2 linked regions of the Homo sapiens genome follow. The protein of the gene in region 1 purifies or fractionates together with the protein of each later gene. This does not show direct contact. Each region holds a gene or a part of one and is shown on either strand. Other genes may lie near its edges. The genes, in order: CD5 and PPP1R7.

Region 1 (4,503 bases):
CTCGCATTGTTTCTTGCTGACCCTGGTAATAATAATAATCATAGTTGTTGCTGTTATTATTGTTTATTGAGTACTTACTATACTATATGCCAGGATTGTACTTAAGCTCTGTGTGCATTGATTCATTGAATCCTTATAAGCCTCTATGAGGTACTGTTGCACCCAGTTTACGGATGAGAAAACTGAGGCTTACAGAACTAGTCCAAGGTCGCCCAGTTGGTAAGTGGCAGACTGGAATTCAAACTGCAGAGTCCATGACTTTCCCACGTCCCAGTGCTGGCTTTCAGAGTCGCATCGGCTAGGCCAGTCAGGGACGTGCAGTTTGTGTTAGAGCCGCTTCCCCGCCTCACTGCCAGCAGCTGTCCAGGCAGGCTGGGGCTGAGAGGGGAGCAACTGTGGGAAGCCCTGGCCTGTCACTAGCACCCAGGCCTGCTGGGGGCATCTTCATGCCTCAGGATCCAAAGGTCCCCAAGCCCCGATGCCAGCCAGGAGGCTGTGGTGTCCCCAGGGCTCTGGCATTGCTGCCTCTCTCCTTGGAATGGCTCAAAGGGTGCCTGCACTGTTTGACTCCAGCAACCCTGGCCCTTGGTGTCCCCAGCTCTGGTGGCTGTATCTCTGCTGGTGGAGGTTGTGTCCCAGGGCCATTTTCCTGCACACGGAAGTGCCTTTGGTGGCCTTCCCTTTTAGCTAAGGGAGGGGCCTCTGTGAAGGCAGGAATGCTGGGCTGGGGTCAGCTCGGCTGTGCACCAGCTGCTGCACCCTGGGTTTGCACTCGGCCTTCCTGGGCCTCGCTTTTCCCCACTGTAAAATGGGGCCAATGGGCCCACCTACTTCATTGGCTGTTGTGAAGCTTGCAGCAGAAAATGGCTTTAAAAGTGCTTTGTAAACCGTTACCCACTGAACAAAGGGAATGCTTGGTACCCACCGGCTCACTCAGACACTGGGAACTGAGTATTCCTGGGGTTCAAGGAGGTCCCCATACTGGGGTGAAGGGGCTACCTCCAAGTCTTCCTGACTGTGGCCTGTGTTGGGCCAGGGGACTTGCCTGGTGCCATCAGGAGCCTCACCCATGATGGGATTCAGTTGGGAGGGCCCTAGAGCAGGACACGGGTTCCCATACTCAGCTGGGAGCCGCCCTATCTCAATGAAGTCTGAGGCCAGAGGTGAGGAGCAGGTGGGGGGTTTAAGGGCCTGGTCCCTCCTTAGCAGGGTCCCTGAAGCCAGCCAGAGGTCTGTCTCAGGCCTCTTACTTTGGGACAGAAGGCATTTTGTACCTGTTGTTGTTACATGTGAGAAGAACCATGTGAACATGTGTGCACAGGTGCCATTGTCACATGTGTTGGGGAGATAATCCTGCCTTTGGAGGCCGCATTGTGCTCATGAAAGCACACACACACAGTTCTCACACACATGCGCACAGACTCCCACACACAGACTCACACACAGACTCACACACAGACTCACACATTCCCCCCACACAGTACTCACACACATGCCCAGAGACTCACACACAGACTCACACACAGACTCACACATTCCCCCATACACAGTTCTCACACACATGAACACAGACTCACACACAGACTCACACGCACAGACTCACACTTTCCCCCCCACAAAATACTCACACACATGCCCAGAGACTCACACACAGAGTCACACATTCCCCCCCCACACACAGTACTCACACACATGCCCAGAGACTCACACACAGACTCACACACAGACTCACACATTCCCCCCCACACAGTACTCACACACATGCCCAGAGACTCACACACAGACTCACACATTCCCCCCCAGACAGTACTCACACACATGCCCAGAGACTCACACACAGACTCACACACAGACTCACACATTCCCCTACACACAGTACTCACACACATGCCCAGAGACTCACACACAGACTCACACACAGAGTCACACATTACCCCCCAACACAGTTCTCACACACGTACACACAGACTCACACAGACACACATAGACTCACACATTCCCCCACACACAGTTCTCACACACATGCACACAGACACACACACATGCATTCCCCCACACTCACACCTGCACACCCGGTTTCCCTAGAAGGCTGCTGAGGCTCCCTGCTCAGGCAGGCAAGGCCTCCGGACCCTCTCCCTGCCAGCCTGGAAGCTGCTCGCATCCTCCTGTTTCCAGCCCAGAGTCACGCACCTCTGTCACCCTGCCAGACCTTCTAAATCCTCAGGAAGTGGGTCAGGCCTCATCCAGTTCACACCCCCAACCCCCACATTTCATAAATGGGGAGATCAAGGCCTGGAGAGGCTTGGGGACCTATCCGAGGTCACACAGGGTTGGGCTTACAACCCAGGGCTGGAGTGAGAGCAGGCCCAGCGTGTACTCATCCCAGCCGGCCTGGCTGGGCCCCTCTGGGACTGACCCAGGACTGGGCATGAGAGGGCCTAGGACTTCCGCTATGAGTCCTTGACATTTGCTCAGACATCGTCCTCAGAGGCGGCTCCACCCTGCCTCGGCCCACTGTCTGTCCAGAGCATCATCAGAGCTGCCTCGGAGACGGCGAGTTTCCATGTCTCTGGAGGCGACCAAGTAAAGGCTGGGCTGTCAGTGGGGGACCTCGCAGAGGGAGGCCTGAATGCTCTGCTAAAATCCAACTCAGCCTAGGAATCAAGTTGTCTGGGCCCCATCAAATGCGGGTCCCCCCTGCAGTCTCTCTTGCACTGGAAGGGTAAAGCAGGGTTCTCAACAGCGCATGAGAGAGGCAAGGTTGTGCTCCTGGCGGGTGGGACATGCAGGACAGAGGGCCAAGCTGCGGCTTAGTGGGGGCAGGCAGGGATCCCAGTGGCCCCAAATCTCCACAACGCTCCAGAGGGCTGACATGTGGATCCCAGAGTCAGCCTTGGGTAAAACTGGGAACTCCTTCCTTGCACTGGAGCGAGCCCGGGTGTTCGCAGGACACCTGGGAGGGGTACTCACCCAGCATCCCCAGCAGGTACAAGGTGGCCAGCGGTTGCAGAGACCCCATGGGCATGGTTTCTGGCCTTCTCTTGCCTCAGCCTGGGCAGCTGGGCACCGCAGGTGAGGGTGTCTGGCCGGGTATCTCGCTCTCAGAGAGGGAGAGGGCGGGGTGGCGTGCTCAGGGAGGGGTGGGACGGGGAGCAGGCAGTGTGGGGCCTGCGTCACCCATGTTTGAAGTTGAACTGTCAACTTCCTCCTGGCAAAACCACCTGCCCCTGTTTGAATGGCAGCCCTGGCCTCTGCCAGCTTCCTGCCCAAGGTACCCAGGGCTGGGGCAGTGCTCTCGGCCACCCCCACACAGGACAAGGCCATGCATCCTGGAGGGACAGGGCTGCAGGGGGTGGGGACCCTGAGCGGGGGTTACGGAGGCTGAAGGCCTGGCTGCAGCTGAGGGCTGGGCTGAGGACAGGCGTCCCTGAGGCAGGGGTCTGGGTGGGGAGAGGCGGGAAATGGGCAGCATGATGCCAGTTCTTGTTGCAGACTCCAGTGAAAGCCAAAACCAAACCCTCCATTCCCCCTTTGTGAGGGATGAGGTTGGAAGTTTGAGCTGACTTTCCACAGGTGGTGTTTTGCTAGCAAGTACAAGAGATGGCTGCGCCATGAATGCTGGGCTTGTGCCAGTGTGTGTGTGTGTGTGTGTGTGTGTGTGTGTGTGTGTGTGTAGAGAGAGAGAGATCTCCATGTTGACTTGTGTGATCTCTGTGTTGTGTGTGTCATCTCTGTGTTGTGTGATCTCCATGTTGAGGTGTATGTGTGAGCTCCATGTTGAGTGTGTGTGATCTCCATGTTGATGTGTGTGTGAACTCCATGTTGATGTGTGTGTAATCTCCATGTTGACGTGTGTGATTTCTGTGTTGTGTGTGATCTCCATGTTGATGTGTGTGATTGTGATCGCCATGTTGATGTGTGTGTGATCTCCATGTTGATGTGTGTGTGTGATCTCCATGTTGATATGTGTGTGTGATTTCCATGTTGTGTGTTTGTGATTTCCATGTTGATGTGTGTGTATGATCTCCATGTTGACTTGTGTGATCTCTGTGTTGTGTGTGTGATCTCCATGTTGGGGTTGATGTGTGTGTAATCCCCATTTGATATATGTGTGTGTGATCTCCATGTTTGTGTGTGTGAATGTGATCTCCATGTTGATGTGTGTGAATGTGATCTCCATGTTGACGTGTGTGTGTGATCTCCATGTTGATGTGTGTGTGTGATCTCCATGTTGATGTGTGTGAATGTGATCTCCATGTTGATGTGTGTGTAATCTCCATGTTGATGTGTGTGTGTGATCTCCATGTTGATGTGTGTTTGTGATCTCCATGTTGATGTGTGTGAATGTGATCTCCATGTTGATGTGTGTGTGATCTCCATGTTGATGTGTGTGTGTGATCTCCATGTGGATGAGTGTGTGATCTCCATGTTGATGTGTGTGTAATCTCCATGTTGATGTGTGTGTGTGATCTCCATGTTGTGTGTGTGTGATCTCCATGTTGA
Region 2 (3,815 bases), on another chromosome or scaffold:
GGGTCAGGCACTACCTGGCCCCTAGTGATTGATCACCAGCCTGCCTGCCTCCCTGCTAGCTGTGGTACCCAGGTTGGCCCCTGCCTGTGGTCTCAGCACTCTGTGCCCCATGCTCTGTTCCTAGGCAGGGCATGCAGAAGGAATCGTTACGCTTCAGGAACATTGCTTCAGTATCAGCTCGTTTCCCAAACCTGCTCCCTAATTTTTTGCCAGGTGCCCTTTCCCTATCACCTGGTCCTCTGTCTCTGGACTCCTTATTCCTGTTGTTTGGTTTCTTTGTGTTGTTCCCTGGCTTCTTTGCCAACTCCCTATGCACTAATTCAACCAGCCTACCACCAGCCACACCTTCCTTCAAGGGTGGGCTGCACATAGACCCACCTGGACTCATTGAGGCTCCCCCTGGCCTGGTACATCTTTATCACCTGCCAAATTCTGGCTCTGATCTTCCCAGACATGCTCTGGTATCCCATCATGACACTACTCAAGACCCAGTGCCACTAATAAGGGGCAAGGAACATTTGCAGCAGGCCACCTGTGTTCTAGGGAAACTTGGATGACCTTTTAAAGTGGGGAAAGGAGAAAGCACAGGACATAAGCAGGGTCAGCAGCACGGCTAGAGGAGAGACAAGGAAGAATGATGCCTTACACTCAGCATGAATCCTGGATTAGACTGAATGTATCTGAGGACACTACTACATTCCCAGCATCACAGGGTGACACCTGTGCCGCAGTCTCTGCAGGGCCACGTGCTAGCGGAAAGGCAATAAACCTTAGGAGATTTCTCTAAGGGAATCCTAGCACTGAAGACTTCCACTCGGGGATCATTTCCCAACCCCTTTAGAGGAACTGCAAAAACTTCTTATATTCTGTTTCTCTTCCTGCTGACTCCACAACACTACTCCTGAAACCATACCTGTGACAAGACAAATACAAGGCAAATTCCAAGATGACTAACTGCAGAAACCCATCCAACATTTCCTTCTGTTGTGCTGGAATATATCTGTAGGGAATGCGTCTGCCTCTCTGCTGAGGTTTGCAAACCATTTGGTCAAATGACAATTGTAGGTTCTACCCATACCTAGATCAGGGCTTCTCCAACCTTTGTGTGTACTGCAATCACCCGGAGTCTTGTAAAGCAAAGATTTTGACTCAGTTTTCATCTGGGCTATGGTGGGGCCCAAGATTTTGCATTTCTAACAAGCTATGTCAATGCTGCTGATCTGTGGCTCACGCTGAGGAGCACAGACAACACCCAATACAAGTCTACAAGAGCGCCCACCCCAAATCTCATGATGTGCGGAGTCACTCAGCATGAAGGCTTACAGGAGATTCTTGTATTCATTCATAAGACATTTTAATCAGTGAGACCAGTTTAGTCAAAGTGTCATCAACCCCAGCGTGTATTAAACTTACCCAGAACTCTTGCAGCTCTGTTAGATGGCTGATATTTTCAATCTTTTTGATTCTATTTGATGCAATGTCCAACATCGTGAGTTTGTTCTAAAAGAAGGAAATAAAATGTTTCCTGGATTACCTCTGATCAACAGTGATTTGCATGACCACGCAGGCAGTGTCAAGTGCTGACCTTAGGGCTGCAGGTGCACTGCCCTCTCTGCCCTCACAGGGTAAGGGCATGCTATGGAGGGTGACGAGACCTGCTTGCTTCCTGCAGCCCTCCCTGGGACAGTGTTTCCATCAGAGCCTGCCCAGCTATCTCCCTGAGCTCTCCTGATCGCTGGAATTTGAGACTGTGTCAGACTCCAAGCCCAGTCCTCCCAGATCCCTGTCCATTGAGACAGACCTAGTGAGACTGATGGTCCCAGGAAGAACCGAGTAACCCCCTGACGCTCTGAAGAAAGGCTGACAATTGTAGAAACATTTACTTAGTGCTCATCACGAGGAAATGTACGACCAAGTAATCTTCAAAACAAAGTTCCTCTCTTCATTTAGGGATGAGGAACTTGGGGCTCAGTGGGGCTAAGAATCTGCCCAGGCGCACAGTAGCAGTGGGAGAGGCAGGACTCTCAGACCCCAGGCCTACACTCTTGTCTGGGAAAAGGGTCCCGGGAGCATAAGTGCAGAGAAGGGACCCATGCTGAGGACTGGGTGCTGGGCCTGCTGAGCACCTGCTGCAGGGTGTGTGCCCCCACTGGGAGACAAGAGTGTGTTTTTAGGATCTTCTACTCTGAAAATGCACATCAGTTACTCACTTTCCAATACATGTTAGCTAAGCCTGAGTAATAATTTTGTTTCTCATCAAAAGGAAAACATTTACAAGCTGTCTGAGAACCTCTGACAAAGTTCATTCCCTTCTCTGCCCTCACGCTCTGCTCCCTCCTGAGTCCCTTCCTTGGTTTTCTACTGCATTTTTGGTATTCCAATTCCAAAGCCTTCTAAGTTTTAAGGGAAAGTTAAAAAATTTCTCAAAAGCAAATACTCCTCCCCCCATCTCCCCTGAAATGTACCCAGCCAGTAGCTTTCCCAATTCGAAAGCGCTATGGCTGTGGCCTGGGAGCTCCTCTGGCTGTACCACCCTTGCTGCCTTGGCGCCCAGCACCCCAGCTGGCACCAGCTGCGTGTGTCAAGTCTGACGCCACTCTCCAGCAGGCTATACGTGGCATGCTGCCTAGGAGGTGCCTTCAAACCACCCCATCTCGGTGCCCTGGTCAGGTCTGCTCACAGAGTATCAGGCTCAACAGTGTGCGAGGGAGCTCAGTGGGGCGGGTTCAGAGCAAAAAGGACTGCAGGAAAATGTTGCAGAAGACGCGACTGTGGGTAATCCAACGACACACCGCCTGGCGGTGGGGCTGGAACAGGCCTCTCTAGCACGGACGGCAGCTCTCCCCCGCACTCTGCACCATTCTGAGATGCTCATGGTCATCTGGTATGCAAGCCCAGAAACTGGCAAAATGAAAGTGGCCTGGAACACACGCAGGATTTGAGCCTCGTGAGGTCCAAGCACCAAGGCTCAGCACGAGGGGCAGAGCCGGTGGTGGGCTCTGGCTGTCAGAACCGGTCCATCACCTCTGAGCTCAGGGATCCATGTAGGCACTCAACACTATTTCACGTTTTTCTACAGGAGCTGGACAATGTTGTGAAAACTCATCCAAAAGCAAACTAGTAAGAACTGCTTAAGAAACAGAAAAAAAGAATGGAACAGGGTGAGGAGAGCAGGCACACCAAAGGGCATGACACAACGCCACAGAAACTACACCTGTCAGGGACCACTGCAAACATATTCTAGACCAACGGGAGAGCCCAGAGCTGGAGAAGACACGAAGAACAAGACAGGAGTCGTGAGACACTGGGATGGGGGGTGTCGTCTAAGTTCCCACCTGGGACAAAACTACATTTACTTTCTTATTTCCCACCATAAAAATAAATTCCAGATAAATTAAGAAACAAAACTTAGGAGAAAATATTTGTCTGATCTTTAGTTGAAAAAAATGGCAGAAGAAAGACTGTCACATTTGATCATGATGAAGATTACAATAACGTAATTACCTTTAATACAACAATTTTTTTTTTTCTGTTTTGTTTCAGAGGCCCAAGAATAATCTGGTGTTTAACCAAGATCACAGTGTAGCACTTCTACTGGTAAAATTCTGAACCACACTTCTTTCCAGTTTTCCTGGGACTGGCTGCTTATGTGAACTGTGCTGCAGATTGTCTGTCTCCCGGTGGATGCTTGGTGGTGACTGCAGGGCCTTGGCTCAGGGAGGCCAGGGTGCAGGAGGGCACCAGGGCTCCCTGCTGCGCACCCCACCCGGCCCCAACCCCAGCCCCTGCCACACAGTCCTCAGCGCCATTCCACT

The links.
Region 2: the proteins of CD5 (region 1) and PPP1R7 purify together in Homo sapiens (affinity purification with mass spectrometry; one large-scale study listed by BioGRID and IntAct). This does not show direct contact.

What each region holds. Positions count from the first base shown.
Region 1 is NC_000011.10:61,101,083-61,105,585, reverse strand, and holds the start of CD5 (T-cell surface glycoprotein CD5 isoform 1 precursor), read right to left. Parts: upstream 3,098-4,503; 5' UTR 3,026-3,097; coding exon 2,971-3,025; intron 1-2,970. UniProt on the Homo sapiens protein: Lymphoid-specific receptor expressed by all T-cells and in a subset of B-cells known as B1a cells. Plays a role in the regulation of TCR and BCR signaling, thymocyte selection, T-cell effector differentiation and immune tolerance.
Region 2 is NC_000002.12:241,167,466-241,171,280, reverse strand, and holds part of PPP1R7 (protein phosphatase 1 regulatory subunit 7), read right to left. Parts: intron 3,606-3,815; exon of another isoform or gene 3,544-3,605; intron 1,501-3,543; coding exon 1,414-1,500; intron 1-1,413. UniProt on the Homo sapiens protein: Regulatory subunit of protein phosphatase 1.